Linked DNA regions of Homo sapiens. The protein of the gene in region 3 interacts with the protein of the main gene of each other region in a pairwise test. Each region holds a gene or a part of one and is shown on either strand. Other genes may lie near its edges.

Region 1 (7,035 bases), on a different chromosome or scaffold from region 3:
GCCTTTTCACTCTGTTGATAGTGTCCTTTGTTATACAAAAGTTTTTAATTTTGATAAAGTCTGACTTACCTATTTTTTCTTTTATTGCCTGTGCTTTTGGTGTTATATCCAAGAAGTCATTGCCAAATTTAATGTCATGACATTTTCTCCTCTATTTTCTTCTGAGAGTTTTATAGTTTTAGCTCTCACATTTAGGTCTTTGGGGTTTTTTGTTTTTTGTTTTGACACAAGATCTTGCTGTATTGCCCAGGCTGCAGTGTGGTGGTATAGTCATGGCTCACTGTGGCCTTGGCCTCCTGGGCTCAAGTGATCTGCCCGCCTCAGCCTCCCTAGTAGCTGGGACCACAGGCGTGTGCCACTGTGCCCAGCTAATTTTGGTTACTTGTTGTAGAGACAGGGTTTCCCTATGTTGCCCAGGCTGGTCTTGAACTCCTGGGCTCGAGCACTCCTCCTACCTTGGCCTCCCAAAGTGCTGGGATTACACCACGCCTGGCCCTCTTTGATCTATTTTGAGTTAATTTTTGTATATGGTATAAGGTAAGGATCCAACTCCATTCTTTTGCCTGTGGATATCCAGTTTTCTCAGCACCATTTGTTGAAAAGATTATCCTTTCCCACATTAAATGATCTTGGCAACCTTGTCAAAAATCATTTAACCATATATGCGAGGGTTTATTTCTGGACTCTGTATTCCATTCCATTGCTCTTTATGTCTGTTTTAATGTCAGTACCACACTGCTTTGATTGCTGTAGCTTTTTTTTTTTTAATTTTTTTTTTATTTGAGATGGAGTCTTGCTCTGCTGCCCAGGCGGGAGTGCAGTGGTGCAATCTCAGCTCACTGCGACCTCTGCCTCTCGGGTTCAAGCGATTCTCCTGCCTCAGCCTCCTGAGTAGCTGGGATTACAGGCGCCTGCCATGAGGCCCGGCTAATTTTTGTATTTTTAGTAGAGATGGGGTTTCGTCACGTTGGCCAGGGTGGCCTCAAACTTCTGACCTCAGGTGATCCGCCTGCCTCGGCCTCCCAAAGTGCTGGGATTACAGGCATGAGCCACCGCGCCTGGCCAATTGCTGTAGCTTTTTAGTGAGTTTTGAAATCAGGAAGTGTGAGACCTTCAGTCTTTCAAGACTGTTTTAGCTATGTGGTGTCCCTTGATATGGATTTTTCTATTTCTTTAGAAAATGTCATTGGGATTTTGTTAGGCATTGCATTGAATCTGTAGATCACTTTGGGTAGTACTGACACCTTATCAATATTAAATCTTCTAATCCATGAACATGGAATGTCTTTCCATTTATTGGTGTCATCTTTAATTTCTTTCACCAATATCTTGTAGTTTTTAGCATACAATATTTAACCTTTGTTAAGTTTATTCCTCGGTACTTTATTCTTTTTGATGCTATTGTAAATGGAATTATTTTCTTAATTTCCTTTTTGGATTGTTTATTGTTAGTTGTAGAAATGTAACCGATTTTTGTGTGTTCATTTTGTATCCTTCAACTTTGCTGAATTTATTAGTTCTAATTGCCCTGCTTTTAAAATCAAATTAATTCCAACATTCAAATCTTAATTAAATTCACATAAAACTCTAGACTTCCTTTTTGTCATAAAATATTGGAAGATGTGGCACCTCTGAGCTGACATTCCCACATGGCACCCACCGCTTGAGGTCTAGTGGCAGCTCCTGCCTTTGGTGGAGGTGACCATCCTTTAGCACGCTCCAGCCCCACCACCCTTTCTGTCTCTGCTTACCAACCTCATCCACAAGTTCTGCTCTGGCTGGCCCCTCATGCATTCAGCATTCTTCCTACAGGTACTTACTGAACACCTACTGTGTACCAGGCACTGTTCCAGGCACTGGGAGTACAGTGCTGAACACAACAGACAAAAATCCCTGCCTTCGCATATATCATCTCGTTTAATCCTCGAGACAGCTTCCATGAGGTAGCCTCATTATACAAATAAGGAAACTAAGAGACATAGAGAACTTAAGAGACTTGTCCAAGGTTACCCAGCAGGTAAGGGGATGTCTGGATTAGAACCTGGGCAGCCTGGCTTTAGAATTCGAATTGTCAGCTGCTATTACTGCCCATCAGTGGCGGAAGGACCCAGAGGTGAAGACTTGGCAACAGAGGCAGGGTGGCGTGGACAGGGGACAGATAGGCCTGGCCGGTGGTCATACAGCCAGGATCAGGCCTTCTGTGGGCTCCACAGGGTGTGCTCCCAGGGCCGCCCCGCTGGCCTCTGGGCTGAGTTTCCTTGAGGTTGTCTGGATCCCAGACCCTCTGGCCTTCCCAGCTCAGCAGCTTCAGCCTGGGAGAGCCCGCTTTTCCTCAGCAGACAGCTGATGATCGTTGACTGGGCTTGGTGGGAGGTAAGGAGGTAACCAGCAGGTTTTCTTTCTGTGATGGTAAGAGGCCGCCTTGGAAGCAGACAGCTGAGAAAACACAAAGACCTGGGCTGGCTGGCCCCACCCTTGGTCGAGCCGCTTCTGCCTGTGAAGTGTAAATGCAGGTGGTGTCAAGCCGGCAGACAGGCCCAGCTCCCTCTTCCCCTTGAGCAGGCAGGGTGACGCCCCCTGCAGCAGGCCCGTGATTCAGTTGCTCTGGCTGATGAGGAGCCTGGGCCCGGGAGGAGTGTCGCACAGCCCCAGCCTGGTCCGTCCTCAGCCCTGGATTGACGTCCATGCTGTCCTGGGACCGTTTCAGCCGCCTAGTGGGGAGTCTGCTTTCTCCTCCGTCCTGTGTCTTGGGCTCAGGCATGTGCCTGCTGCCCCTTTGTGGCCACAAGTATGTATCGGGCCCAGGGTGGCACTCGGGACCCTCCCCTGTTGGGCTTAGAGACATGGACGGCCCTTGCTGGCTGGAAGCTGCGGTGAGTGTGTGAAGGGCCCTCAGTCTTCCCTGAGGAAGGCCCTGCCTGCTCTTGGCTCTCACTGCTCCCAGGCCATCTTCCATCCGCTTTCCCCAGGTGCCTCCGTTTCTCTCTGACTTCTTGCCTGTTTTCCCTAACTCTGAGAGATTGCCTGCCTTCAAGTGCAGGAGAAAGCAGACATCTTCCCTACAAGCCCGAGACCTAGCCCCCAGTAGAGCTGGCCAACCACCTGCCACGGAGCAGGCCACTGGTGCCTTGGCCAGAGTGCTCGTGGTGCCAGTCTGCTGCGTCTCAGTCACATTCCCCCTGCTTTGCTGCCCTCAAGAAGCCAGAGATGACCTAGTGTCTGACACCTCTGAACAAAGGGGCCTTTAGAGCCCCTTCCTCAACTCCCTCACCATCCCCCATGCTCCCCAGCCTGCCCTGGTTGCGGTTGCGGCCACTTCCTTTTGGGTGCCCCTCTGAGATTCTGGACAGAGCCCAGGAGCCCCCAGGTTCCCATTGTGATGCAAGGACAGAACAGAACCCTGGGCCGCAGGCAGGTGGCTGGTGGGTATCCCGCCTCCCACCCCCAGCAAACACTGGCAAACCCCACTCTCCCTGCATCAGGGTCTGAGTGCCTGGCAGGGGCGGCAGTGGAGATGATCAAGGTTAGTGCGCCCAGCCCCATGCTGAGGCAGCAGCCTTTCTGGGGAGGGAGGGGGCGTGGAAGGAGACTTCAACCTTTTGAAGAGGAAGTCAGTTCACTTATGTCAGGGTAGGGAGAGTAGGAATTACGTATTCTTTGAGACTGAAAAATTACTGGCCGGGCGCAGGGGCTCACAACGGTAATCCCAGCACTTTGGGAGGCTGAGGCGGGAAGACTGCTTGAGGCCAGGAATTCAAGGCCAGCTTGGGCAAAATGGCAAGACCCTTCTATACATTAAAAAAAAAAAAAAAATTAGCCGGGCGTGATGGTATGTGCTTGTAGTCCCAGCTACTCGGGAGGCTGAGATGGGAGGATGGCTTGAGTCCAGGAGGTCTAGGCTGCAGTGAGCCTAGATCGAGGCACTGCACTCCAGCCTGGGTGACAGAGTGAGACCCTGTCTCAAAAAGAAAAAAAAAAATTACTGAAAAGCATAAAGATTTTGTCAACTATAATTCCACAGCCCAGAGACCCCCACTTTTTAGTGCTGTACACTTAATGGTTTTTCAGATGTTTCTTGGACTTAATATGTTGATGAGCCTTTCCCCATGACATTTAAAACTCCTGATAAACATGAATGTAATGATGACAGAATAGTCTATGTACTATATATACACATTGTAATTCACCTGCCCACTCCTCTAAGGGTGCTTATTCAGGGTATTCTCAATTTTAGGACGAAAGCAGAAAGGCTGCCTCATGCAAACTGTCCCTACTCCCACCCAGGGGCCAAAGGACTTGAGCCGTCCTCTCATCAGGCACTGAGCGGGCAGAGAAGTGGCACAAGCTCTGCCTCCCTGCCTGGCCCGTGGCCCAGCGTGTTGCTAGGAAGGAATGTGTTTGTGCAGGTGGCGGCAGAGCTGACCTCCAGGGGTCTGGCCCTTGGGTCACCTGCTTGTCCCCCAGGAGGCCTGGCTGGGCCCCCAGCCTTTCACCTGGGTCTTGCATCTTGGAATCCCCCTGCCCCACCAAGAGCAGGCAGTGCCAGCTCCCTGGCCTTTTCCTCAGAGGTGGGGGTGGATCCCTTGGTCCACTTCCTCCCTGACCACTCAGAGCTGGCCTAGCTGCTGTGAGTCAGCCGTTCTCTCCCACCCTGGGAGACAGGGACCTCCGAGGCCGAACACTACCTTGTTTGATGACACAGACTTGTTTGATGACATCTCAACCATGTAAAGTAGGGAGATTTTACACACACCCCCAAAATCCAAATGTCCGGCCTGTCTTAACTATGGCTGATGCATGCTGCTGAGTGCTAAGGGGGCGGACTCTAAGCCTCTATTTTTATTTTATTTTTTTTAGACAGCCTCGCTCTGTCACCCTGGGGTACAGTGATGCTATCATAGCTTACTGCAGCTTCAAACTCCTGGGCTCAGGTGATCTCCCACCTAACCCCCCGGATTACAGCTGGGATTATAAGCGTGCACTGGTGCACTCGGCTGAGTTTTGAAACTTTTTGTAGAGATGGGGTCTTGCTGTGTTGCTCAGGCTGGCCTAGGCCTCTCTTGAAAGATGAGAATTTTGGCGATGCTGGGTGTGCGTTCTCACCTCCTGTCGTCCGAGGAGAGTACGTGGTGGCCGCCTTCTTAAAGGGTTCTTGGGAGCCAAGCCCTGCACAGCCCCTCACCTGCCTTACCTGGCTGTCCCCTGTAATCAGTGGACGTTGTTGCCTATCATTTAGTAATGAGAACCCAGCTGTGTAAACCTCCTAAACCACCACACAGGAATCTGGCTCTTAGCGCACCTTTCCCGAGGTGGGGGTTGCTCACCACAGGACGTTCTGCAAGAAAAGTACTAAACATGCCCTGACGGAAGCTGGAGCCAAAGTCTGTGTCTGTGAATTGTTTCCTGAGAGAGGTTTCTGGGGGTGGGCTGATGTGAGACCAGGGTCTAGGGCCTTGGGAGGGGATGGGTGGCTGGAGGACAGCGCCGGGGAAGGGTTGCTCCCCTGGGATCTGCCCTCATGGGACTGGCACCATGATGGTGTCCCCTCTTCTGGGGTCCGGATAAGCTAGGTAACCGTGGCTTCCTCATGGGGTGCACACCCCCTTCCCCCTATAAGAGCCTTGGCTGCCACAGCTTTCCTGCAAGGCAGATTGGGAGCAGGGGTGGACACAGGTTCTGAGTGTGCCCTGACCACTGGCAGACCCATCTCCACAGGCTGACTTGCCAGAGACCACCCCAAGTGGAAAATTCTGGGGGCTGGGCCAGGGTGGATCTAGGGCTCGGAGGACCTGGAGTATGTACCATCTGGGGGCCCTTTTAAAGAGAGAGAACATAAAATTACATAGACACAGGCAGGTACAGGACTTTGGGAGGGGCTCGTGTAGTGAGGGGTCCTGAGGGTGGGCTGCCGTTGGGTGGGCCCAGGGGGCATCGGGGTGGCCTTGGTTGCACTTGCCCTCTGGGCTTTCCTGAAGAGCTGGGGTTGGCTCTGTCCTGTGGAGGGAGAGGGTGCGGGAGGCTGTCAGCACCAGCCCAGGTTTCTCTCACCTGAAGTCCCAGGTGTGATGGGATGCTTGAACATAGGGGAACCTAAGGCCACAGCCTTAGAAGAAGCCACAGCCACATCAGTCATCCCTGGTGCTGGGCAGGAGGCCTGGGTGTAGGCTGGAGCTGAGGACTGAGGCTCACCTTGCTCCTGACTCTGTGCCCACAGGTAGAACACCTGAAGGAGAAGCTCATTAGCCAGGCCCAGGAAGTGAGCCGACTGCGATCTGAGCTGGTGAGGCCACAAGGCTGTCCTGGGGTAGCGCAGGGCCTGGCCTGCCTTGTGCAGATGGGCCCTGCCAGGGGCAGGGGTGCGACCCTCTCTCTCCTGAGCCCGCATATCCCACCCTGTCTCAGAAACACACCGAGAGCCTTATCCCCACCTCCTAGTACCCTCAGAGGCCTTGTGGCTCCAGGGGGTGGGAGGTTCCTTCTCTGTTGCTGACATTAAACGGGAGTGTGAACCCTGGTATAAATATGTCTCTCCTTGTGACTTTCACACTCAGAATAGGGTGGGGGCAGCAGGGAGAGCAGGCTCTGGGTCACCACCCTTCTCAACTCTGCCCTCCACTGTCTTTCTCTTGGTTTCTCTCTTGAGCTTGTTCCCTCCTCTCTTGCCCTTGCCTTTTTCTTTTTCTTTTTCTCCTTCCCTCTGCCTTTCTCCACACCTCTCCTCTCTTCCCTGCCCTTGTGCCATCTCCGCGGGCCTCTCTTCTTTCCCCCGTCATCTGCCCTCGCCACATGCGCCCCCTCGGCCCTGGCTCTCTGCAGGGGGGCACCGACTTGGAGAAGCACCGGGACCTGCTGATGGTGGAGAATGAGCGACTGAGGCAGGAGATGCGGCGCTGTGAGGCCGAGCTGCAAGAGCTGCGCACAAAGCCAGCAGGTCCCTGCCCAGGTTGTGAGCACAGCCAGGTGAGCAGAATGGCCGTGGTCCCCATGCTGGTCCTGGAGGGCCACCCCAGCTCCTCACAGTGAGCCTGTCCCTTG
Region 2 (3,314 bases), on a different chromosome or scaffold from region 3:
CTGAGATTAATGCCAACGAAGTGGGGCCGTGGGCCTGGGAAGACTGTGTGGCTGGCTGAGGGTGGGCAGTAAGCTGGCCACCCCACCCCCGACATGGACATGGCTGTGCTATGGCGGAAGGGGTGGTGTGGGCATGGCCACAGCACTCGAGACAGCCCTCCGAGGAGGAGGGCGAGCCTGGCTGGACCCCCTGTCTGCGGTGCTGTGTCAGGGCAGGAGAGGACAGCCTCTTGCCCCCAGGAGTGTGCAGTGTGGGCAAGAGACAGAGTGATCATGTGTTTGGAACGCAGCTCCAGCCCAGCCAGGGGACCAGAAAAGCCCTCCCGCTTCCAGGGAGGATGTGCATGGCTCTGCCAATGCCTATCTCCCAGGGCCGCTGGCAGGTCCCAGGATGCGCAAGACTGGGCTGCCCAGGCAGGTCCCTGCAGACAGCAGGGCCTGGGCTAGAGGCCAAGGGCTGGGACTGGGAAGGGACGCGACGCCTGATAGCCAGTGAGGAGCCAGGCACACAACTTGGAAATAAACAAGCTTTATTTTCAGTTTCAACAGGTAAGGCGATACCTGCTTCATCGTGTGCTTTTATGTAAATGCCAAATAGCAAAATAACAGCTAGAAAATAAACAGTTTGTCAGTTTGGAGATCAAGTACTTTATCTATCTTGAGTGTTATCTGTCTTGGAATTTAGCCAGGCCTAAAAGTAGCGGAAGTATCAGGAAATGCTATAGAGAGCCAGTCTCCAGCTGCAGGTTGGTGGGCCTGGCACTGACCAGATTGGGGTGGCTCAAAGCACTGAGCGATGCAGGCGCCGTTTCTGCATTGCCTGCAGCCTCTTCTGCCTCTCGGCAAAGTTGTTCTTCGGGGTCTGCTTCAGTGCGGGCAGGATGGCACGCTCCGCCACAGGTGGGCTCAGGCTGGGGCGGGTAGAGGGACTGTCACCGTGAGCATCCCCGGGAGTGGAGTGTGTGGGGAGTGCGGCCTGCATGGCCCTCACGGGGGCACAGAGAGGCCTCAGCGAGCTCTGCTTCTGCGCTGCCACCCTCCCTTCCCCACTCCCTCCCTGGGGCCCAGGCTGCAGGGCTGCCCCACTGTCCCCATGCCTGTGGGACTTACCATTTCTTGGAGAGGCTCTTGGTGGAGACCTTGGGGAAATGCGTGGCTTCTTGGTCCCTGGGTGAAGGAAGAGTCAGCAGTGAGCTGTGGATAGGACCCCAGGGATGGGGCAGGGGTGCACCAGGCACTCACCTGGGAAAGCTAGCTTCCTCCGGGGCTGCCTGGGGCCTCTGGCTCCCTTCCAGGAGGGACTTGAGGTGCCGCAGCTGAAAGGCAGGGGCAGGGGCATGGTGGGGCCTGTGGCGGTGCCAGACTGCCCAGGGCCACCCCCACCACCCAGGGCCTCACCTCTTGGGTCTGCAGGAGGTTGGTATTCCACAGCTCGCGGATGAGCACTTCGCACTGCCTAAGTGTGGTGGGCTTTCGCAGGGGAAGGGGCAGGATCATTGGGGGGTGTGCCCCCGCCCCCATCTGCCTGCCCTGGTGCTGGCTGTTCCCCATACAGGCAGCTCCTGCATTAGAGGCCTCTGCTTTCTCCTTTCTGAAACAGTCATTGCAGCAGCCAGAGGTGACCTGCCCAGGTGCGTCTAACCACCCACCCAGCATACCTCCCCAGGCAGCGCCCAGGCCAATGTGGGGAAGAGGGCCTGGTTCCCCTCTCCCACTGAGCAGGGTGCTCTGGGCACCAGGTGGGGGTCTCTGGGACTGGGGCCTGTCCCTTTCTCCCCTCTGAAGGTGCCCTAAGGGTCAGATGGGCTTCAGTGGGTGACCAGCTAGCTGCCAGGCTGCTCTTGATCGTGACCCCACACCCAGTGGGGCATCTTGCTCCAGGCCTGGTCTTGGGATGTGCAGATGCAGGAGCCTGTCCTGCTGGTTGCGCTGCTGAAAGTGTGCACTCTGTAGCATCTCAGGGCAGTCCCGCAAACTCAGGGATCACCAGAACCTGTTCCTACTCTGACCTGCTGGCCTAGTGCCCTCCAAAGGCAGGCTGTGGCCAGGGGCAGCAAGCCTTCTCTTGGTAAGAATATTACTTTACTTTTCTCTGAGGAAGTGGTTTAGGGGCTGCTACTGGCCCCCCTCGTGGGCTCAGGTCAGCACAGGTACTCTGCAGGACCCCCAGGGGAAGGGAGGAAGACAGCGCCCACCGATGGGTAGAGCGTGGCCGTCATCTGCTATCATGAGCCCAGGAGACAGGCCCCTGGAGCTAGGGGCAGAGCAGTTGGCTGACTGCAGGGCGTGAGCCTAGTAAATGTAGTCATGGGGCCCTTAGGGTGCAGGCAAGACTTACCTGGCCTGCCCTTGCACCCCAGGAACACCCAAGCCTTACCTGGCCTGCCCTTGTACCCCAGGAACTTTGTCCAGCTTGCTGTTGTGAAGTAGGGGCTCCTCTTCCAGGTCCGCCTTCTGGGAGACGTCAGCTTTTGAATCTTGCTTGTTGAAGGAGCCGGGCTGGGGCCTGGCCTTGCCTTGAGAGTTGGCTGCAAGTCAGACCCTACAAGGCCGGTCACTGCAGGCACCAACAGTCACCGCCCAAGTTTTCCAGGAACAGCTGTGTGTACCCAAGAAGCCCCTGTCCCTGCCTCAGTTTCCTCCTCTGTAAAGGGAAGCCTGCCTTGGAGGGTTCTGGGGGGAATCAATGTGGTTCTGAGGGTGAAGCCCATGGGTGGTGCCTGTGAACACTCTAGAACAATCAACATAGTGGAAGCTGGCCCCATCTTGGGTAAAATGAAACTGCATGAGAGGCTTGGGACCCAGCCTGCATGGGTTTCCTCGGCAAGGACAAGGCCCGTCTAGCACCTGGGCCCATCACAGGAATGGTGGGGGTTAGGGCAGGGCTGAGGAAAATGCCCGGCCTCACAGAGTGGGGAAAAGAGGCTCTCTGCTCCCGGCTCACTCTGCAGAAGGTGCCATGAGCCCAGGGCTCCGTGGGCAGTGCCATCCCTCCTGTGTCCTGCCTGCTTGTGGCAGGGACACGGCCAAGCAGGGCTGCTGCTGGGCAGCCAGGGTACATCCTCCCTAGAAGGCCACCCGGGGAGGCCCCTCCTGCCTGCTTGCTGCCCCGCCCTGGGGTGCCTGCTGTGAGGCCTTACTGCCCTGTGACTGGTCCCTGGTCCTGCCCACCCCCCCTTAATCCCCTCCCGGTGGCTTCAGCTTGCAGGGCTCTTTTCAGCTGCACCTTCATCCCCAAATCCTGGAGCTTGGCCCAGCAGAGGGCGCCTGGTCAGCACCCCTAGAGGCCACCCAGGCTGGGGTCCCCGTGGGGC
Region 3 (7,035 bases):
CATAGTGAGACTCCATCTCTACAAAAAATTAAAATTAAAAATTAAAAGGGATCTAAAAGATGATTTATTATCAAGGAAATGGAAATCCTTTACAATAAAAATCCAAACCCCAGCCAGGCACGGTGGCTCGCGCCTGTAATCCTAGCACTTTGGGAGGCCAAGGCAGGCAGATCACAAGGTCAGGAGATCGAGACCATCCTGGCTAACACGGTGAAACCCTGTCTCTACTAAAAATACCAAAAATTAGCCGGGCGTGATGGCGGGTGCCTGTAGTCCCAGCCACTCGAGAGACTGAGGAAGGAGAATCGCTTGAACCCGGGAGGCAGAGGTTGCAGTGAGCCGAGATCACGCCACTACACTCCAGCCTGGGAGACTCCATTTCAAAAAAAAAAAAAAAAATCCAAATCCCTAGACAATAGTCCAAACAATAATAAATTTGAGGAAACTCCACTATAAATAAATAATTTGAACACACTCCTGAAATTTTTATTTGTATTAAAAAATCTGGTCTATGGCTCATATCGCTTGCTATTCTTTCCAAAATATTAAAGTAACTAGCACAAGGCAGGTACTTAATTTTTTTTTTTTTTTTTTGGCCGGGGGGTATGGAGTCTCGCTCTGTCGCCCAGGCTGGAGTGCAATGGCATGATCTTGGCTCACTGCAACCTCCACCTCCCGGGTTCAAGCGATTCTCCAGCCTCAGCCTCCTGGGTAGCTGCAATCACAGGCATGTACCACCATGCCCAGCTAATTTTTGTATTTTTAGTAGAGACGGGGTTTCACCATGTTGGTCAGGCTGGTCTCGAACTCCTGACCTTGTGATCCGCCCACCTCACCCTCCCAAAGTGCTGGATTACAGGCGTGAGCCACCGCACCCGACACAAGCCAGGTACTTATATGCATAATCTAATTCAATCCTGTACCCAGAAGGTAGACATTATTTTTCATGTTTTATAAACCAAGAAAATGAGTGTCAGATTAAATAATTTGCTCAACATACTACAGCTGGTAAGTGGAACCCAAGCTTGATCCCAGTTTATATTCTTTCCAACCTATCATACTGCCTATCAAAGAAAGCATTAGTAGCAGGTTCTCTTGACATTGACGTGAATGCTTTTTTTTTTTTTTTGAGACGGAGTTGCACTCTGTCACCCAGGCTGGAGTGCAATGGCACGATCTCGGCTCACCTCAACTCCACCTCCTGGGTTCAAGTGATTCTCCTGCCTCAGCCTCCAGAGTAGCTGGGATTACAGGCATGCGCCACCATGCCCGGCTAATTTTGTATTTTTAGTAGAGACGGGGTTTCTCCATGTTGGTCAGGCTGGTCTCGAACTCCCAACCTCAGGTGATCCGCCTGCCTTGGCCTCCCAAAGTGCTGGGATTACATGTGTGAGCCACAGCACCTGGCCGACTCTATGCTTTCAAAATATGCACTTGCTTTACATTTTTTCCGTTTAAAATTAAGTTATTAAAACCTTTTGATTTTAAGGCTGGATGTGGAACACATGAGGCCAAGAGTTCAAGACCAGCCTGGCCAACATGGCAAAACCCCATCTCTACTAAAAATACAAAAATTAGCTGGGTATGGTGGTGCATGCCTGTAGTCCCAGCTACTCTGGAGGCTGAGGCACAAGAATGGCTTGGGCCTGAGAGGCGGAGGTTGCAGTGAGCTGACATTGTGCCACCACACTCCAGCCTGAGCGACAGAGCAAGACTGTCTCCAAAAAAAAAATTATTTTATTTAAATCTTGAGAGTTTTCTAATAAAATTTATTTTAATCTGGTCTTCAAAAATAACAGTTAAAGCTGAGCATGGTGTTGGCTCACATGTGTAATCCCAGGACTCTGGGGAGCTGAGGCATGCAGATCACTTGAGCCCAGGAGTTCAACAGCCTGGGTAACATAGCGAAACACCTTCTTTACTAAAAATAGAAAAAAATTAGCATGATGGTACAGGCCTATAGTCCCAGCTACCCAGAAGGCTGAGGTAGGAGGATCACCTGAGCCTGGAGGGAAGTCCAGGCTGCAGTGAGCTGTTATCATGCCACTGTATTCTAGCCTGGGCAACAAGAGGGGACCCTGCCTCAAAAATAATATTTAAAATTTGCCTTATCATATGGTTTGCTGCTTTTACTACGGCTATGCTTTTAGCCATCTGAAAGCTTCACGCTTTTCTTCCTGGTCCTTAATACACAAATAATATCTCTCCTTAGCAATATCATTCTTTTGTAGATACCTGTTGGACTGGAATGTGTCCCTAGAGAGTTTTACTTTTTGAATGCATGTCCTTTCTGGTCCCAAACTATATACTGGCCTGTCTGTCCAATTTGTCATGGCATTTTGAATTTTTCTTGTCATCAGAGTACACACAACTCACTAAAAATATTAAAAACTCCATGTGTAGTTGAACTTATTGTCCTAAGGGCACAAAGTAGTGAAAAAGTGCAGGGGCTTCAGAGGCAGATCTGGGTCCCAAGCCTCTCACTGATCCTGCAAAGATCACTTAACTTCTCTGAGCCTCAGTTTCCTCAGATATAAAATAGGAGCAGTGTCATCTGCTCACAGGGTTATGGTAAGGATTAAATGAGATATATACACATATCCTTTATATATATATATACACACACACACACACACACATATAAATGTCCTATGTCTGTGTGTGTGTATATACATATGTGTGTGTGTGTGTATACATACATATATATAGTACCCAATAACATATTGGCTGCTCAATAAATACTAAATAGCTGTGACAATGGAAAACATTCTGTGCAAAATAACTGTAGTCCTTCATGACATCAAGTTAAAAAAGCAGAGAGTATGTGCCAAACATTCCCAATCTACTGACCCAGTTAATATCAATTAGAATTTTAACAAGCATGCTTCTGAGGCCATCATCTAATAGGGCACCTGCCACACTTACCCATGTGAAAAGCAACTCGGTCCCCTTTATGGGTCTTAATCTACCACACTAAGTAACAGGTAACTTCCCTATGGATAGTGACCCAGAGGCAAATTGTTCATTCATCATCAATGGAGTATGTTCTTTTTTCAATTATGTGGTAACGAAAATTACTTATTACCGACTTCTTTACTCAGCTATTTGTACTCTGTATATTTACTGCTGCATAGTGGAAGCACTTAAGCAAAGGACCAACGTTCTAATGTCTGTGACAAATACAATCTGGAGGCCAGGCGCAGTGGCTCACAACCTGTAATCCCAGCACTTTGGGAGGCCGAGACAGGCGGATCACGAGGTCAGGAGATCGAGACCATCCTGGCTAAGATGGCAAAACCCCATCTCTACTAAAAATACGAAAAGATTAGCCAGGCATGGTGGCGAGCATCTGTAGTCCCAGCTACTTGGGAGGCTGAGGCAGGAGAATGGCATGAAGCCGGGAGGTGGAGCTTGCGGTGAGCAGAGATGGTGCCACTGCACTCCAGCCTGGGCAACAGAGCAAGACTCCGTCTCAAAAAAAAAAAAAGTCTTACAACCCTAAAAAGTTAAATTAATAAATGTATAAACTTAACCCAGTTATGCTGGAGGTTGCAATTTTTGTTAAAAATCAGACCTTGGCGATGACCTTGAGCAGCGGGACATAAATAATTCCCGCAAGCTTAGTGTTCCAATAATGGAACACTAGGCATAAATGGGTTAATTTTCAGATGAAGTCTGCTGAACCCAAAAATATGAAAATGATTTCCCAAGGATTGTAAAAATAACTGCTAAGGAGATGCTGCTAACTTGATCACAAAAGCAAGATGAGTAGAAGGCTTTCTTGCACTGTGCGTGTCTCTTGTATGTGTAAAAGTGTGTATGCATGTCGACTGCATGTCGAGTGTGCAGTGCAGAGATAAGAGAGGAAATGGGATAAAGTTCAGTCTATAGCATACTATGCTATTAGACTGCATTAAACTGCTACAAAGTTTCTTTACTCCAAAAAGTAGACAGGTTAACTGTTGGAAACTCTGTAATTATTAGATAAAATTAACAGTACTTTACAATTATATGTATGTCACTTTACAGTTTACAAAGTTATTAAGTAGATATTCAATTTGATGCCCTGAAATAAATTTAACTTCTTTGCCCTCCCTTCTCCCCTCCATCAAGGACAGAGTAAGGAACACTTAATCAGGAAAGGCAATATAATTGCATCAATCTGTACAGAACCACAAAGAATAAAGGGTAGGAAGGTAGGACCTTGAAGAGGGCCACAGGGACTTCAAGGAAGGAGGAAACCAGAATGTTAAACATGAGGGAAGCCCAGGGTTCACAGGAGAGTTAGGCACCATACGGGGCAGGTTGTGTTCGCCACATAAAAGGAGGGGCACACAGCATAAGTTTCACATTCTAAAATAATATGAAAAGACCATAACTGAAGAGCTGAATTTGGAATTTCTGGTTTTTCACAATACAAGTAGATGATGACCACCAACCATGGTTTCTGAATGAACTGGGTTCAAAACATATCTGGTTGCAACAGAGGGCTTCCTTGGACCCTAACATTTGAAATTAAACAGAGGTAATTTGAGGAGCTGCGATTTTACACAGTGGTGGCATCCTGGGGAGCTTCTATTCCATCAGTCAATTTTAATATCTCACAATCGTGGAAAAGGAGTTTCCGAGCAGGGACGAGCAATATCGATGGGAAGCCGATACTTGGGCCATCTCTTGGAGATTCCTGCTGTAAGGACGGCAAGTGTTTCTCCAGAGAAAGCACTTGCCTGGGTATGACTCAGGGCCGGGCAGGAATTCACACTATGAATCCGGGTGGTGGGAAGGCGGAGAAGTATGCCTACAAAGATTAAAGAGCCAGGAATGGAAAACACACTAAAAACCGTCCCAGTGGGCAGCCTGCCTCCCCACAAATAAGAAGACCTTGAATCCTGAGCATAATCAGGGAGACAAAGCAATGCCCTGGATGCCACCAGCATAGACAAAGCCAACGGAAAAAAAAAAAAGAAAAGAAAATGCATGATTCAGTATTTACACACACAAAAAGAAGAGTGCAGAAGCAAGCAAGAAACTAAAGAAAAAGGAGGCTGGGTGCGGTGGCTCATGCCTGTAATTCCAGCACTTTGGGAGGCCAAGGAAGGTGGATCACTTGAGGTCAAGAGTTCGAGATCAGCCTGACCAGCATGGTGAAACCCCGTCTCTACTAAAAATACAAAATTAGGCGGGCGTGGTGGCCCATGCCTGTAATCCCAGCTACTTGGGAGGCTGAGGCAGGAGAATCGCTTGAACCTGGAAGGCAGAGGTTGTAGTGAGTTGAGATTGCACCACTGCACTCCAGCCTGGGCAACAAGAGTGAAACTCCATCTAAAAATAAAATAAAATAAAAAATATAATATAATATAAAAAATAAACTAAAGAAAAAGGAACAATGCTCACACCAAGGGAGCTGCCGACAAACCCCACTGATGCTTCCCAGCAGCACTACAGCTTGGCTAATCCCAGCTTCCCACTGTACCTTTCAAAATGACAAGGGAGAGACATGAGTTAAGCATTGACCCCACCTCAGCATGGGGTAAACATCTGAGATTTCTGCTGCCCTGGGTGTGGTTACGTGGGATTACCATTCTGGGTGACTCACTGAAATGTACTCACAGTGAGTCATGCCTTCAAATGACATCTCAAGTTCTGCCTGCTTGGAGATACATCTGGGGATCTTAAGGGGTGAGGGACTACTCAACAAGAAGGAATTTAGCCTGTCTTTTTAAATAAACGGCATTTCTTTTTCCTAGAAAAATGGGAAATTCTTCAATTCTCTAATACAGGGACACTGAGATAACAAAGAGGAAAGTGTCTGGTTGGAGGTTGGGAGGCCACCCTGGGGTCTCTCCTACAAAAATGGAAAAGAAAAGAACGGTGAGAAATCAAGCAAAGCACAAGAAAGTTTCCCTTTGCTAAAAGGGAAAAGATGCCCCACAATGGCCATAAACATGAACTGGGGATAAGGAGGAGAATGTCTCTTCTTGGCACCCCCAAACAAACGTTAATTACCCCTCCCGGAGAAGACGATGTGAAAGATAAGGATTCAGAGGTTCTAAGTCCTGGAATCTAAGCCACACTCTACAGACCTTCTCAGAGACCTTATACTTAGGAAGAAACAAGAAAGTAAAGAAATTCAAATAGATAAACCGAATAATAAGGAAGTCCTTACCCAGTGAGACCACGTTCCCATAATTCTCTAACATCACTTCTCTGTAGAGGTCCCTCTGAACAGGGTCCAGGTATCCCCATTCCTCTCGAGTAAGGTGCACAGCCACATCCTCGAATGTCACAAACTCCTGAAATAACACATCCTGGCTGCTCTGAGGAATGAGAACACTGTAGCACCATGGCCAGAGAATGAAGATCATAGAGAGGGTATCCACTGTGTACTTACGTTGAGGAGGAGGGAGAACAGATTAGAACCTACGGAATAAAGCCCATAACCCTTAAACATCTAATAAGCACCCATCACACAACCATGGACAAAGAGAAAACAGAGTTTGCTCATGGCACTGGGGAGATGGGAAGTTGGTTTATGTGAAGTCCAGGTCTCCGAAGAGGATCAATTCCCAAACTGGAGTCTGCTATTGAAAAAAATTCCAGGCAAGGTCTACAGATGGGATGAGAGAGAGGCCACACTCCATCAGTAGCAATAGTCCCTGAGGAAAAGCAGAGGGTTCCTCAGCTCACCTGGTACCTGGCTGTCAAGAGCGCAGCTGCCTGGTCTCCTGGGCTTCCCTCACGGGGAAGAGCAGGCACCTGAGGAACAGGTGGAGCTGAGGGAGGAGAAAGGAGTGAAGAGTGAGAGCAGCCCTTTCCCAGGGCTCCCTTTCAGAGGAGGCCTCTCCAGCCCAAGGGGTGTCAGCAGGACCCTCCTCAATACTCTAGTAAAACCAATGAACATTTTTCAGGTATTGGGTGTGTCTACTCTGCTTCGTCTCAGTACTTGCATGCCTTATGCGTGTTTTGACCTGTGATACAGGATTTTCTTAGGAAAGCTTGTATTTCACTTTATCTTCATCACATGACAGTCCTCTT
Region 4 (7,323 bases), on a different chromosome or scaffold from region 3:
ACCCTTACAGTCCACCACCGCTGTCCTCAAATTTACATTAGAATCACCTGGGGAGCATTAAAAACCGCCAAGTTCTGGTGCCAGGCACAGTGCGACGTATGCAAATGTAATCCCAGCTGCTCAGGAGGCTGAGGCTGGAGGGTTGCCTGAGCCCAGGAGTTCAAAGCGAGCCTGGAGAACAGAGATTCTTATTGTGTGTAGGGAGTGTTGTGGCAGGCCAGGTCTCACTAATGCAGGCCTCCGGCCTTCATAATGACTGTTTAAGTACTGACTAAGTGGTTAATTTTTTTTTTTTTTTTGGAGATGGCATTTCGCTCATTGCCCAGGCTGGAGTGCATTGGTGCGATCTCGGCTCACTGCAACTCTGCCTCCCGGGTTCAAGCAATTCTCCTGCCTCTCAGCCTCTGGAGTAGCTGGGATTCCAGGCATGCACCACCGTGCCCGGCTAATTTTTGTATTTCTAGTAGAGACAGGGTTTCGGTATGTTGGCCAGGCTGGTCTCAAACTCTCCTGACCTCAGGTGATCCACCTGCCTCGGCCTCCCAAAGTGCTGCGATTACAGGCGTGAACCACCATGCCCAGCCAAGAGAGGCTTTTGATACTAATTGCCCAGTGATTAAGCTCTAGAAGGAATCCGATGAGATGTCAGGACTATTATTATTACCATTATTATTATTTTGAGATGGGGTCTCATTCTCTTGCCCAGGCTGGAGTGCAGTGGTGTGATCACGGCTCACTGCAGCTTTGACCTCCCAGGCTGAAGTGATCCTCCCACCTCGACCTCCTGAGTAGCTGGGATCACAAGTGTACATCACCATACCCAGCTGATTTATTTATCTCTTTGTAGAGATAGGGTCTCCCTATGTTGCCCAGGTCTCAAACTACTGGCCTCAACCTCAAGTGATCCTCCTGCCTCGGCCTCCCAAAGTGTTGGGATTGTGGGTGTCAGCCACCAAGCCCGGCCACAGCTGTGACTTCCCACTGCTCAGGAAGAACATCAGGGTCTGTTCACCAAGAGTTAACAGAAATAGACGCGATATGTAACAAACCCTGTTGGACCTAGTCTCATATTTTGCCCCATTTATTGTAATGTTTTAGAGATCTTACTCTGTTGCCCAGGCTGGAGTACAGTGATGCCACTATAGCTCACTGCAGCCTTGTCAACCTCCCAGGTTCAAGTGATTCTTCTGTTTCAGCCTCCCAAGTAGCTGGGACTACAAGTGTGTGCCACCACACTCAGCTAATTTTTGTATTTTTTGTAGAGATGGGGTTTCATCATGTTCCCCAGGCTAGTCTGAAACTCCTGGGCTCAAGTGATCCTCCTGTCTCTGTCTCCCAAAGTGCTGGGATTACAGGCATGAGCCATAGAACCAAGCAACTTTTTTTTTTTTTTTATTTGAGACTCAGTCTCAAAAAGATAAAATAAAAAAAGAAAGAAAGATCATACCTATTATGATACACCAGGGTTTCTCAAATTTTGTTTCCTATTAGCATCATCTGGGGAGCTTGGAAAAAAATCCCAATAACCAGGCTGGGCGCAGTGGCTCATGCCTTTAATCCCAGCACTTTGGGAGGCCAAGGCGAGCAGATCACTTGAGCCGAGGTGTTTGAGACCAGCCTGGGCAACATGGGGAAACCCCATCTGTACAAAAATCGCAAAATTAAGCCTGGCCAACATAGTGAAACCCCATCTTTACTAAAAATACAAAAACTGATCTGGGCCTGGTGGCACACATCTGTAGTCCCAGCTACTCAGGAGGCTAAGGTTGGAGGATCGCTTGAACCCAGGAGGCAGAAGTTGCAATGAGCTGCTGAGATTGCACCACTGCACTCCGGCCTGGGTGACAGAGCGAGACCCTGTTTCAAAAAAAAAAACAAAAAACCAGAATTAGCTGGCCTTGATGGTGTGCATCTGTAGTCCCAGCTGAGCCAAGGAGGTGAAGGTTGCAGTGAGCCGAGATTGCACCAGTGCACTCCAGCCTGGTGACAGGATAAGACCGTGCCTCAAAAAAAAAAAAAAAGAAAGGAAAAGAAGGCCAGGCGCGGTGACTCACACCTGTAATCCCAGCACTTTGGGAGGTGGGGCGGGCGGATCACAAGGTCAAGAGATCAAGACCATCCTAGCCAACATGGTGAAACCCCGTCTCTACTAAAAATACAAAAATTAGCTGGGCATGGTGGCAGGCACCTATAGTTCCAGCTACTTGGGAGGCTGAGGCAGGAGAATCACTTGAACCTGGAAGGCAGAGGTTGCAGTGAGCCGAGATCGTGTCACTGCATGCCAGCCTGGTGACAGAGTGAGACTCTGTCTCAAAAAAAAAATTAAAAAAAAGAAAAATCCCAATAACCAAACCCTGGCCCAGACCAATTAAAACAAAATCTCTATACATGGCTTTCAGGCCTCAGTGGTTCTTATTGTGTGTGTTGTATTGGGGGGGCTTTTGAGACCCCCACTCCTAACCTATTCCCAGACCAAACTGAGGGTTGGGCTTCTATATCTCACAGCCCAATAATGAGACACAGATGAACTAGGGAGGAAGAGAGTTTTTATTTCTGTAACTGGTTACAGGGAGAAGGCCTGGAAAATATCACCAGACCAACCCAAAATTACAAAGTCTTCCAGAGCTCATATACCTTCTAAGCTATATGTCTACGTGTAGGTGTGCATTCATCTAAAGACGTAAGTAAGTTATAGTCTTTTAACCCATAACTAAGATCTGAGTCCTGAAGACCTTCCTCTGGAGCCTCAGTAAATTTACTTAATCTAAGTGGGTCCAGGTGCTGGGGTGATTACCCTTATCTTATCTCCTGCTAAATCATGGAGGTTTGGGGGAGTTCCTTCAAACCCCAATAAACTTGTTTGTGGAGGCCTGAGGAGTTTCTTCAGACCGCCAATAAAGCTTGTTTAATCCTAAAAGGGTCCTGTTAAGAATTCCTTCATTATCTTGTCATGCTTCAAGGCCCAGGAAAGGCCTAGGCACAACTCTGGGTGGGCTTTTGTTACATCCCAGCCTTTGTATAAGGGCACTGGCTCTCTTATCTTTTAATATTTAACTTAACCCTTGTAATCCCAGCACTTTGGGAGGCCGAGGTGGGTGGATCACGTGAGGTCAGGAGTTTGAGACAAGCCTGGCCAACATGGTGAAACCACGTCTCTACTAAAAATACAAAAATTAGCTAGGTGTGGTGGCACATGCCTGTAATCCCAGCCACTTGAGAGGCTGACACACAAGAGAATCACTTGAACCCAGGAGGCAGAGGTTGCAGTGAGCCGAGATCATGCCATTGCACTCCAGCCTGGGTGACAGAGTGAGACTCCATCTCAAAAAAAAAAAAAAAAAAAAAAGCAAACAACAAAAACCCTCTCTTGGCTGCTTGCTCTGTGCCTTGAGCAAGAATCCTTCCAGCCCAGGAGTCACTTAGCAGTCTTCAAACATTCTAGTTTGCTTCTCTAGAGTTTCGGTCACATTTCTTTCCTAAGCAAAACACTATATAATTACCGAGTTGCAAAAATCATCTTTCCAAACGCCAAAACGGAGATAAGACAGAAAATAAAAGATGTGAGAGGCAGGCATCCTGGGTAAATCACTCTGGTATTGCAGGGTTGGGATCCCCAGGGTACTATGATGGCTAACTGGAACAGAATGCAGGCATTTCTCCAAAGCCCAAGAGTTCATAAAAGCAAATTAAATATGACTCAATGGATTAATCAAGGGCCACCAGTTGCATTACTGATTACTAACTTTGCAGAAATGAAACACGGTATGTTGGGTCAAGGTTCAGTGAGGCTGGTTTTCATAACATTCCAGGCAATAAACAGGCACACTCATTCATTGATAAATGTTGACAATGACAGGTGGTGACTGTTGATAAGGTTTGATTGCCATTCAGAAAGTTTGTTTGACCTCTTTCCAAGTAACCACGACCTTACCTCTCTCTTTTGAGCTTATCACAATTGGTGACTGTACACTTGTTTCATAGACTTCCCCACCAGACTGTGAGCTCCATAGGGCTGGGCCCCAGGTCGGTTTCACCACCAGGCTCTCTCGCCTAACTCGGCCCACGGGAGGCCGTTTCCAGCTGCTCTGGCTCCATAGCTCAGCCTGGCAGCGGCCACTGGGTGCCCTGATTTGGTCGGCCCCGCCCCACCGGGCCTTACTTCCGGGATGCTTCTGGCGGGAGCAAGAAACATGGTTACATACGACGTAATGCGCCTGCGCACAGTCCGTCCTGCGCCTGCGCATTCCTGACAGCACCTCCCGGACCGGACATAACGGTCCCCGCGCGGCTCCCCGAACCGGAAGTGGAGGTGAGCTGTCGCGGGCGGCGCCCGGCCTTGCTCAACGCCCAGCAGTCCCCACCGTCGCTGCCGCCGCCACCGCCCTCGGCCGCTGCCGAGGCCTCCTGCAGCCATCATGTCCGCCAGCGCCGTCTACGTGCTGGACCTGAAGGGCAAGGTACTGAGGGCTCCCCACCCTCCCTGTTGCCAGGCAACCGGCAGGGGCCTCCGCCCGCGGGGACCCACCCTGTTGCTAGGTAACCGGCTTATGAGCCCCATCCTGGTGTGAGGCAGAGAGGCCGGTAGACCTCACCTGAGAGCCCCATCCTGTTTCTGGGTAACCGGGCGGGGGTCTTAAGTGGGTAATCCCCGCCCTGTTGCTACGTAACGCGGTGGGCTGCAGCCACCGCGTTGCCAGGTAACTGACTGCACCGCCCTCTGCTCCCCGGCGCCGGGGCCGGGGGCTCGGGCCTCGGTGGAGGACCCAGAAGCGGGGCCGCAGCCGGCCTCGGAGCCAGGCAGGGCGTCCAGGGGCTGCGCGACCCTTGGCCGGGGGTGGCGAGGCGTGGCGGGGACTGGGTGCTCTCGAGCCAGTCCCGCCTTCTCAGGGCGTTACAGCTTCTGTTTATCGTGCACTTTCTCTCAGTAGGAATTTCTCCACGTTCATTGTGATAGTGAGTTACAAGGATTAGGTGAGGTGAGTGGTGATCACGAGTGCCGTTTTATAGAGGGAGAAACTGAGGCATGGAGAGGTGAAGCAACCTGACCAAGGTCACAATGGTCACAGAGAAGTAGCAAGTCTAGGAGTCCGATCCAGAATCATTCGTTTATTCAGCTGATATCTGGGGAGCACCTACTAATGCCGGGCAGGGTACTAAGCCTGGGGTCGATTTGTGTTTAGCAAAAAACAGTCCCTTTTTTTTTGTTTTGTTTTTGAGATAGTGTCATGCTCAGTCGTCCAGTCTGGAGTGTAGTGGTGCAATCTCCACTCACTGCAACCTCCGCCTCCCGGGTTCAAGCAATTTTCCTGCCTCAGCCTCCCAAGTAGCTGGGATTACAGGCACCTGCCACTACGCCGAGCTAAATTTTGTATTTTTAGTAGAGGCAGGGTTTCACCATGTTGACCAGGCTGGTCTCGAACTCTTGACCTCGAGTGATCCACCTGTCTTAGCCTCCCAAAGTGCTGGGATTACAGGTGTGAGTCATGTGCCAGGGCTCAACAATCTGTGTTCTTACGGTGTTCACAGGCTGGTAGGGGAGATGGATACCCATCTCCAAAAACACAAATAAATGTCAATTGCAGTGGTGTTGAGGGGCGAGTGTGTTATACAGACAGTCAGCCTCAGCCCGAGGATGAGAGAGGGTTTCCCTGAGGAGGGGTGACAAATGGACCAGAGACACCAGGGAGCTGGACATAAACTAGAACCCAGGCATCTTCCCCAGAGGATCTGAGAAAACTTTAAGAAGGGATTGTCCCCACCTTTTAGAAATGGTCCTCTGCCTTCTCCTAAGTCCATCCCAGGTGCAAGGCAGGTGGCTGCCTGGCCTGTTGCATGTGGAAGCAACAAGAACCGGTCCAACAATGTGAAGCCCAACATTGATCAGTGAGAGAAACAAACATGGGTGTCAGGTCCTAGGTGAGGCGGGCAGGGGTGAGCCCTAAAGCAGCTGAGAGTGAAGAGGTGAAATGGCTGCCCCTTCCCGCCCCACCCCACCCCCAGCACTTTCCTGAAGTCCCTTGAGTGGGTGCCTGCTCTGGAAGCCACCCAAAGTCAACAACTGGTGAGACCCAGTGCTGGGCTTCCCTCCCCCGCCTTCTTGGAAGGAGGGAAGACACCCGTCTTAGAGCACGCCAGGGGCTGGGTGGTGCGGTGGAATGAGTCCTGGTGGAATGAGTCTTGCTTCCACCCTGGCCACTGCCTCCCCAGAGGTGCCAGTGGGCTGCCTGTCTTGGCTTGCTTATTCCTTCAGCAAACATTTCATGAGCACCTAGCATGCACCCTGCCCTATGCCGGGCATAGGGTGTCCATTGGCGCCATGGCTGTGGTGTTAGGGGTGAGCTCAAAACCCATCCCTGCTGCTCAGCTGTGTGACCTGGGACAGGCACCTTCTCCTGTCTGAGCCTCACTTTCCTCACTGGTCAAAAGAGGCTTTTATGGAGTTATTGTGCAGATTTGCTGAGCAGATGCATGAGACAGGCTCAGCACCACCCATGGTCCATGTTAGCTCTCCCAGGCCTCTCGGTCTAGCAGGGGAGTCACCTAGAAGCAGAGACATTACCACACAGTTGGATCCAGGCAGCCACAGGGGCAGGAACAAGGTCCCAAGTCCTGCAGTTGCTCAACCTCATCTTTAGCCAGTGGAAGGGGGAGGTGGTTATGAAAGGCTCCCTGAAGAGGGCGACGCTGGAAGTAGGTTTGGAAGGCACGATCATGTGGAAAAGAGGTGTTGCAAGGGGCAGCCTGCTGGGGCTGCCAAGCCAGAAGTCCTGGCTAATGCTGAGATGGGAGAGAGGGACCAAGGGGACCACTTCAGTTCCAACCAGGAGCCACCGTGAGGAGACCGTAGCCCAGAGAGGCATGATCAGACCTGCCTTTCAGAAAGCTCCCCAAGGCAGCCGTGGGCTTCCTTCCCTTCCTCTGCAACCATGATGCCCTTTCTTATTCCACGACCCACGGACCTCCTGTTTCCAAAGTCAGCCTCGTGAGCCGACTGCATTTAATCAACAATAAAGCACACTGAGAAATTCATGGCCACGTGTCTGGTCACCGAGGACACCAGCGTGGCCACACTGGGCTGGGAGGAAGCTGTCCTAGTAGGAAGCTTCTCCGCTTTATCTAACTGGCTTCTCAGCAGCTTCTGACACCACTAACCACCTCCTCTTCAGTGCTCCCTTCCGCTTCCAGGAGGCTGCGCTCTGGGGGGTTTCCTCCTGTTTCTTGCACTGCCTACTTTCCTCCTTTTCTGCCCTCCCCAGGGCTGTGGAGCGGCTCAGGCCTACGCGTGCCTCCCCATGCTGTCACTCTTCCCAGGTGGGCTTTGAC

What was found.
Region 1: the proteins of ZNF655 (region 3) and KIFC3 interact in binary tests that used the Homo sapiens proteins (3 or more experiments, as listed by UniProt).
Region 2: the proteins of ZNF655 (region 3) and CCDC74A interact in binary tests that used the Homo sapiens proteins (3 or more experiments, as listed by UniProt).
Region 4: the proteins of ZNF655 (region 3) and AP1M1 interact in binary tests that used the Homo sapiens proteins (3 or more experiments, as listed by UniProt).

The regions. Positions count from the first base shown.
Region 1 is NC_000016.10:57,771,468-57,778,502, reverse strand, and holds part of KIFC3 (kinesin-like protein KIFC3), read left to right. Parts: intron 1-1,248; exon of another isoform or gene 1,249-2,017; intron 2,018-3,424; exon of another isoform or gene 3,425-3,514; coding exon of another isoform or gene 3,515-3,523; intron 3,524-6,150; exon of another isoform or gene 6,151-6,214; coding exon 6,215-6,280; intron 6,281-6,816; coding exon 6,817-6,960; intron 6,961-7,035. UniProt on the Homo sapiens protein: Minus-end microtubule-dependent motor protein. Involved in apically targeted transport. Required for zonula adherens maintenance.
Region 2 is NC_000002.12:131,530,866-131,534,179, reverse strand, and holds the end of CCDC74A (coiled-coil domain-containing protein 74A), read right to left. Parts: intron 2,600-3,314; coding exon of another isoform or gene 2,574-2,599; exon of another isoform or gene 2,558-2,573; coding exon of another isoform or gene 2,517-2,557; coding exon 2,378-2,516; intron 1,592-2,377; coding exon 1,399-1,591; intron 1,317-1,398; coding exon 1,243-1,316; intron 1,168-1,242; coding exon 1,111-1,167; exon of another isoform or gene 1,106-1,110; intron 912-1,105; coding exon 782-911; 3' UTR 514-781; downstream 1-513.
Region 3 is NC_000007.14:99,561,626-99,568,660, reverse strand, and holds part of ZNF655 (zinc finger protein 655), read right to left. Parts: intron 6,774-7,035; coding exon of another isoform or gene 6,688-6,773; exon of another isoform or gene 6,366-6,687; coding exon of another isoform or gene 6,167-6,365; intron 4,799-6,166; coding exon of another isoform or gene 4,602-4,798; exon of another isoform or gene 3,956-4,601; intron 1-3,955. UniProt on the Homo sapiens protein: Probable transcription factor.
Region 4 is NC_000019.10:16,193,612-16,200,934, forward strand, and holds the start of AP1M1 (AP-1 complex subunit mu-1), read left to right. Parts: upstream 1-4,299; 5' UTR 4,300-4,415; coding exon 4,416-4,457; intron 4,458-7,323. UniProt on the Homo sapiens protein: Subunit of clathrin-associated adaptor protein complex 1 that plays a role in protein sorting in the trans-Golgi network (TGN) and endosomes.